Regions from separate parts of the Homo sapiens genome. Here region 2 is linked to region 1. Evidence: fine-mapped expression QTL. A gene starts in region 1. The other region holds a variant in brackets. All regions are shown on one strand. Distances are from middle to middle.

Evidence for each region. PIP is the estimated chance that this variant, and not a neighbour inherited with it, causes the effect.
Region 2: its variant is the best candidate, but not a certain one, in a credible set for the expression of VSIR in pancreas (GTEx, PIP 0.54).

Annotation. Positions count from the first base shown.
Region 1 is chr10:71,771,530-71,775,529 of GRCh38, reverse strand. VSIR (V-set immunoregulatory receptor) reads left to right here and starts at 2,010. Exons shown (of 7, transcript NM_022153.2): 1 at 2,010-2,172. The coding sequence starts at 2,091. All of the region lies in intron 38 of CDH23 (cadherin related 23), which reads right to left. RefSeq lists silencers at 1,781-2,110, 2,131-2,210.
Region 2 is chr10:71,744,859-71,748,858 of GRCh38, reverse strand. The region is part of intron 38 of CDH23 (cadherin related 23); the gene reads right to left. VSIR (V-set immunoregulatory receptor) reads left to right here. Exons shown (of 7, transcript NM_022153.2): 7 at 1-1,303. Among named protein-coding and RNA genes, the nearest start is that of VSIR, 27 kb to the left of the region's middle. RefSeq lists enhancers at 1-16, 217-266, 652-861. The variant G/T (reference allele first, on the strand shown) is at 2,102.

The DNA of each region.
Region 1 (4,000 bases):
TGGGCAATGCCTGTGTCTCACCCTGATGCAACCCCAGGAGGCTCAGTGGTGGGCAGTGTGGTAGGGAGAAAGGAAGTGAAAAGGGGGGAGGGAACTGGGCCCAGCTCAGAGGCTCTATCCCCCTGGGGAAGGGGTTGGCAGGGCAATTGCTCCCCTTTCTCTAATTCCAGGCCCTCCCCGGCTGCTAGGCCCTGGGGAAGAGGGAGTCTGGTTTCAAGGGTGTCCTGAGCAAAGCCAGTCCAGGAAGGGTTGAGATGGGGTGGTGCTCTAGGATCTTGCCCTTAAGGGACCCCCCTCACTTGCCAGAGGATGTCAGGGTGAGAAGGGCCCGGTGTCCACCTGATCTCAGTTGGCTTTGTACCTCCCCTGGTGGAAGGGAGCTCATGCTATGCCAGCAGGAAGGGCCCTGGGCTGCCTTCCAAGGTGGGGTCACAAGGCCAGGAGCATGCCCAAGGACCTGGGTTATGTCCTGCCAGCCTCTGGGGCTCCCATCCTGGGGAGTTCACTGGCTCCAGGGGGACTGGGCCTGCACAAGTTCACTTAGTAATAACATGATGCCTCAGCCTTCCTCTGTTGTAGCCTTCCCTGCCCTTAGAGCAAGGGCTAAGGGCCTCCAGAGAGCCCGTGACTTGGATCAGGCCACCCACAAGGCCCCCAGGACTCCTGGCTCCCATTGAGTCCTGATACCCTGGTTCCTGACCCAGTCAGACTCTGAGTGTCCTCTGCCTCTCAGCCTAGGAGTCACCTATTAACCCAAGATCCCTAAAGTGCCAGAAAAACCCCTGGAAGCTTCAGCTAGACTGGGGTAAACTGAGTAAAATGGCTGTGCTCTTCCACTCCTGTGATCCCTGGTCCTGGCCACGATCACCTCTGCTCCTCCATCACACAATCACTCACTCACTCATTGGTTTGTCCATTCAGATAAAAGTGCAGTAAAACCTTCTCCACGCCCAGCTTTGTGCTAGGGTCTCAGAAACATCAGAGAGAGGTTTGTAGTTTCGCTCTGGAGGGCAGAACAGCCGGAAGAAGAACCAACTGCTGGTTATCTCAGGCTGGAGGTGGTAGCTGAAGGGGGTGTGGACAGTAAGGATTTGCCGGGAAAAAGGAAGGGTCAGGACATTTCGTGAAGTGGGAGGACTTGAGCTGAGCCCTGAGGGATGAGAAGAATTAGGAGGGGAGAGACATTCCAGTGGTGCCAGCAGTGCTGGGTGTGGGTGCAAGAGCAGAGGCACTAGAAGTTAGGGTGCATCAGAGTGTCCTGCAGATATCCAGGCACCAGGGAGGGAGGGCGGGTGCACAGCCAGGCGGACAGCTGAGGCCTCTGCCGGAGGGGAGCTTGCAGGATGTGCTGTGGGGCACGCCAACAGGTGTTGCCTGCATATCTGTGTGTGTCCCGGGGTAGGGATGTGCTGATCTTGGCGTGTAGTCCTGCACCTGTTCTGTGTGTGTGTGTGTGTGTGTGTGTGTGTGTGTGTGTGCGCGCGCGCATGCACTCAGGGTGCCTCAGGCTCTGAATCTACAGTTAAACTGGCTCCAGCTTGCCTAGCTCTTCACAATGTCAGATTTCATTCATTCACTCATTTACTCACTCATTCCACAGCTGGGAGTGCCTACCACATACCAAGCCCTGGTCTGGCTGGAGGATGTAGGGTACAAGTCTCTGTCCCCAGATCACTCAAAGGCTGGTGGCTGAGGGCAGATGCAAGCCATGGTAACGTCTATCACGCTGTTAGAGGTAGATCTACTTCTTAGGCTGCGCAGCAATAATAATTTCTCTCCAAAAGGACTGGGGGACGGTAGAACGGGCTTTAAACTGCCGATCAAGTGGAGCTGACTCGCTGGGACGCACGCTGGCTCCCCACCCACGGGGCCGGCCTCCGGGAAGCCCCTCCCACGCGGCCCTCGGAGAGGCAGTTCCCCCACACGGCCCCCCGGGGGCGCTGCGCGAAGGGGGCGGGTGCCTGGAGCACGGCGCTGGGGCCGCCCGCAGCGCTCACTCGCTCGCACTCAGTCGCGGGAGGCTTCCCCGCGCCGGCCGCGTCCCGCCCGCTCCCCGGCACCAGAAGTTCCTCTGCGCGTCCGACGGCGACATGGGCGTCCCCACGGCCCTGGAGGCCGGCAGCTGGCGCTGGGGATCCCTGCTCTTCGCTCTCTTCCTGGCTGCGTCCCTAGGTAAGGTCGGGGGAGGCGGGGCGCTGGGAAAAAGCTGGGAGAAGACAGCAGACTGGAGTGGGAACTGTGGGATGGGGGCGTCCTGGGGGCCCTCTCAGCCTGTGTGACCGTGCACCCCACTCCACCCACCGCCCAGAGGCTGCTGGGACCCCTAGGCAGGGTGCAGTGGCAACTGTGCCAAGTGCCCCAGCTAGGCATCGGGCACATCTGCATGCTCTGACAGCTGCCCAAGTGGCAGGCAGGGCTGTCCCCTGAGGGCTGCCTGTCCAGCCCTTCCCTGCCCAGAGAACCCAGGGCACAGGTAGCTTCTGCAAAGAAGGAGAGGCACAGGGTGGGGGCGGTCAGTGTGTTCTGGTGGATATCACTGGCTTTTGACAGCTGGCATCTTTCTGCCCCTCTAGTCTCAGGGCTCTAGTGTTGCAGAGGACACAGAGGGCGTGGTATGCTCAGCCAGTGCCCCATGCCCTGGTGAAACCCCTGGCTGAGCCTTGGTGGGCACTGGGCACTGGTCACGGTGGGTCCACTTTCAGACACAGAGGCAGCACTGCCCACCTGGTCCCTATTCTAAGGGTCTGATGGCCCAGGAATAAGTGGTCAGCTGATTCCTGCCATCCTAGCAAGGCTGCCACTCAGGGACCAGTGTGGAGTACTGGGGAGGATGTGGGACACTCTTCAGCTCAGCTATGAGCCCCTTCTGGGTCCCTGGATAAATTACGGCATCTCTCTGGCCTCAGTTTCCTCAGCTCAAACACAGAAGCCCACACAGGGAAGCACCATTTTCCCCTTCCAAAGTCCAGACTGTCAGCATGTTCAGATAGTATCCTGGCCCCAACACAGGGGCTCCCGGGCTGGGGGCAGAGGCCCTGGTACCCATGGCCTGGTTGCCTAGTTCTTGCCTGCCCAGAGCTGAAGAGGCTGGATCTCTTCAAAGAGCCTGTGGAACCAAACTTTATAGGGAGGGCCCAGGGAAAGTATGAGTCATGCAGGGACTCGGAGGGAGGCAGGAGGGAGGTGGAGGGCTTGGCACAGGGACCCAGTGGGCAGGATGGAATAGAAGGAGAGGGTGATAGGATAAGAGGGAGAGGAGGAGGCTGAACCTGGAAGATACCTTAGCAACCTGGGTGCCCACAGGCAGCTGGCTATCTCAGCACTTGGAGGCTGGCCTGGGCCTCTGAGGAGGAGGAGGGCTCCACATGTCACAGACACAGCTGCCCTAAGCCCCAGGGTGGATGCTTCTCAAGGTGACAGTCAGAGGGAGGAGGAGAATGGGAGGTGGAATGGACAGTCTCAGCACCAAGGCCATGGCTCATGGCAGGGCATGGCTTCCAGAAGGAACAGAGGATGGTGGCAGGCAGGCAAGCCAGCATCCCACCTGTCATGGGCCACCTGCCCTGCACTGCCCTCCCTGGTGGCCCTGTGAGACCCTTCCTGCTTTCTTGCCCACTTCCTGCCCTCACTTGGCTGGGCTGCCCTCTGTTCAGCAGCCCCAATTTGAGAAACATTTCTAGAGATCCAGGGCACAGGGACCCAGCTTGCAGAGCACCCAGTAGCAGAGAGGCCCCAAGAGGAGCTCAGGACGCCTTCCCCTATATTGCTTATATGGCCAGGGGCCTTTACTCCCAGAGGTCTTGGCTACTCAAACAACATGGTATACTAAAGGGTCATCTCTTCCTGGGCCCAGCACAGGGAGATGATTTAGGCTGGCTGCAGCTTTCCACTGAAAGGAGCCAGAAGCATTTGAATTGCTCTGGGACCTCAGGATTCTGAACTGTGACATGGACACACTATAATAGATATTCACCCAACTCCCTAGGACAGTGTGCACTGA
Region 2 (4,000 bases), 27 kb after region 1:
CACTAGGGACGTCCCTCCCTGCTGCTGCTGGGGAGGGGCAGGCTGCTGGAGCCGCCCTCTGAGTTGCCCGGGATGGTAGTGCCTCTGATGCCAGCCCTGGTGGCTGTGGGCTGGGGTGCATGGGAGAGCTGGGTGCGAGAACATGGCGCCTCCAGGGGGCGGGAGGAGCACTAGGGGCTGGGGCAGGAGGCTCCTGGAGCGCTGGATTCGTGGCACAGTCTGAGGCCCTGAGAGGGAAATCCATGCTTTTAAGAACTAATTCATTGTTAGGAGATCAATCAGGAATTAGGGGCCATCTTACCTATCTCCTGACATTCACAGTTTAATAGAGACTTCCTGCCTTTATTCCCTCCCAGGGAGAGGCTGAAGGAATGGAATTGAAAGCACCATTTGGAGGGTTTTGCTGACACAGCGGGGACTGCTCAGCACTCCCTAAAAACACACCATGGAGGCCACTGGTGACTGCTGGTGGGCAGGCTGGCCCTGCCTGGGGGAGTCCGTGGCGATGGGCGCTGGGGTGGAGGTGCAGGAGCCCCAGGACCTGCTTTTCAAAAGACTTCTGCCTGACCAGAGCTCCCACTACATGCAGTGGCCCAGGGCAGAGGGGCTGATACATGGCCTTTTTCAGGGGGTGCTCCTCGCGGGGTGGACTTGGGAGTGTGCAGTGGGACAGGGGGCTGCAGGGGTCCTGCCACCACCGAGCACCAACTTGGCCCCTGGGGTCCTGCCTCATGAATGAGGCCTTCCCCAGGGCTGGCCTGACTGTGCTGGGGGCTGGGTTAACGTTTTCTCAGGGAACCACAATGCACGAAAGAGGAACTGGGGTTGCTAACCAGGATGCTGGGAACAAAGGCCTCTTGAAGCCCAGCCACAGCCCAGCTGAGCATGAGGCCCAGCCCATAGACGGCACAGGCCACCTGGCCCATTCCCTGGGCATTCCCTGCTTTGCATTGCTGCTTCTCTTCACCCCATGGAGGCTATGTCACCCTAACTATCCTGGAATGTGTTGAGAGGGATTCTGAATGATCAATATAGCTTGGTGAGACAGTGCCGAGATAGATAGCCATGTCTGCCTTGGGCACGGGAGAGGGAAGTGGCAGCATGCATGCTGTTTCTTGGCCTTTTCTGTTAGAATACTTGGTGCTTTCCAACACACTTTCACATGTGTTGTAACTTGTTTGATCCACCCCCTTCCCTGAAAATCCTGGGAGGTTTTATTGCTGCCATTTAACACAGAGGGCAATAGAGGTTCTGAAAGGTCTGTGTCTTGTCAAAACAAGTAAACGGTGGAACTACGACTAAACCCTGGGTCTCCTGCTTCCTCCTCACTGAATGGATTGGTATTATGGGCCAGGGCCTGGCTTGGCCTTCACCTTGGACTTGCTTAGAGCACATACAAGGGCTCTGGGAGATGAACTTGTGCCCACAGGTCCAGGGCTCCACTGTACTGCACACCAGAAACGTTCCTATCTGTGCTCTGCCTGCCCTGGCCTGGGCCTTCTTCTGGGTCCAGAAGACGCTGCTGCTGATGGGTAGGCTCCTTCCATATCAGCTCCTGCCACTCCCTTTTCTGCCTGCCAACTGTGGAGCTAGAGGACTCCTGATAGGCACAGTGGCCCATGCACCCCTCTTGCTTGCATTAGGGGATGGGGAAGGGAGAAACCCTCAGCAGCTGAGCCCCAGGGTCTCTTGGAGGAACTTAGCCAGTTGTATGTGGAGCATCTGGGCAGCTGTGGAACATCCCTCAAGAAGCCAGGCCAAGGGAAGGGTCTGGATGTACTTGTGCTGGGTCAGGGAAGGCCAGCCTTCTTGGTGCCACAGAGGGTGAGGGCCAGGCTGGGACCTTCTGATCTCAAGCCAGGGGAAGCAGAGTTCACAATAGCAGGGTCCAAGTCTAATAAACAGAAGGGGCCTCTGCTCTAAAGACATGAGGTGTACTGCCAAGAGCAGTGTCCCCAGCTCATAGACCGTCACGGGGCCGCTGCTGGGGACTTGCATACCAGAAGGGGGCGGTGGGAGATTTCTGTCCTTCTGCCTGGATAGGTGACTTCTGCAGGTCCTCACCAGCCTGAGAAGCCAGGGCTTCTTATCTGGAATAGTA[G/T]TATCGGTTGGCTGCAATTCACGTGGCAGGGAGGCCACAGTTAGGCCCTCCCTCCCTCTCCACCCCACTGCCAAGTGCCTCTGAGGTTGGGCTAACTCCTGACCTCCCAGTTACCTTCCGCCCTTCCTCCCTGGGCCCAGCTCTTCCTTTGCAGGGGCCTCCCTGACAACCACTTAAACCCCTCCCCCAAGCCTGGCCTGTCTTCCCATGGCCTGGAGCTAGGCAGGGGCTGAGGCTCCACAATGACTCCCCCGGCCAGTGGCACACCATTGTGTGGCGGGCCTGGGTCTGGCCCAGATACCCCTTGCAGCACAGCTGTTCCGAGTTCGGGTGATATGGGCTGAGGCCGGATGGGGGTGGCCTAGGCTGTTTGCAGGAATGTCCAGCTCTCAGGAACCTGGGGGGACGAGGGTCTCAGGGAGAAAAGTAGAGCTGGAGGGACTCAGAGAATTTCTCTTGGCTCTGGGGAGGGTCTTAGCAGCCAAATCTCAGGCCCCCTGCTTAGGGAGCCACATCTTTCAAAACAGGGATGCAAATGATGCTTCCTCCAGAAAACCTGCCCTGGCTTCCAGGCTCCTAGCACTCTACCACATCACAGTGTCAGCTCTCCAGTACATGTGCCTTCCCCTGCCAGACCGTAGGCTCCTGGAGGGCAGACCTGTGCCTGATGTATCTCTGGTGTCCTAGCCTGTACTACAGGCCTCACACATAACACATACTTGGTGTTGGATGAACAAATGAATGAATCTTTCATGCCCTTGTCCTCCAGCAAGGTTGGTCCTGAGCCAGTGAAGGCCATTTTGAAGCCAGGCAGATAACTGCAGTGGGAGTAAAAGGATGGCAAGTGGGCCTGCTGGCTTTCTCTGGATGGATCTATGCAGGGTAGCAGCTGCTGTCTCACCCATTAGACTGTGGCAGCCATTCCTGGAATCTCAGGGTGGTTGGCTGCATGCTGCTCAGGTCTCTGGTTGCTCTAGGAGGGGCTGGGACAATGCTCCTTCCTCATACACGCATCCAGTGAAATCTGCCCAGAGGCAGAGAAGGGCTCTGCTCTTGGGGATATTCATAACCCTGAGGGGTTTACTGCCCAAAGTTGAGGGTCTGGTCAGTGGAAGCAAATCTTCAAGGGTCCAGTGCTCCTTGGAGGCAAGCTACCCTGGTAGGCACTGTGGGCTGCAGGACCCCTGCTTGCTAGCTCTGCCCCATCCCCACCTTGGCTCGGCCAGGCATGGAGGCAGTAGAGGGGGGGTCTTGAGAAGGCAGCGGGAGCAGCTCTTATGGCGAGTCCCATATACACTGTCCCGGGAGGATATGGAAATAGAGAGTCCTGCCCTTGGCCTTGGAAGCAGCCCCGGGCCTAAACCACCTGTGGCTCCCAGAACCCATCCCTGATTATTGCTTGCTCTTCAGCCTTTGTGCAGGCTGAACCCCAGAATATGCTTCTTTCTTGGCTGTGCTAACCAAGACTGACCAACAAGACTCGGCCCAGGTGTCACCTCCTCCAGGAAGCCTTCCCCAAGCCCTTCTCAGTGCCCCATTGCACACCAGTGTTTTCATTGCCTCCCTTACTCAACTTCATTTCTTCAGGCCACAGACCACATTTTCTTCATTTCGGTATCTCCAGTGCCTGGCACATAGTGGCCATTCAGGGACAATGGCTGAATGAATGAATGAGTGAATGAGTGAATGAGTGAATGAATGAATAAATATGGTTTAGTGCTAGTTTCTCTATGTCCCTATGGTCACTGCAATTCTTCACTGAGGTGTCCCCTGCAAAAACCAAATGATAGCAATATTTTCCCAACTTGGAGAAGCAGGGGGAAAAATTGAAGATGGATGGATTCTTTTCGACTTAAAATTGTTTTCCTATACATCTTTCAAGTTGGTACCTGTTGCTGT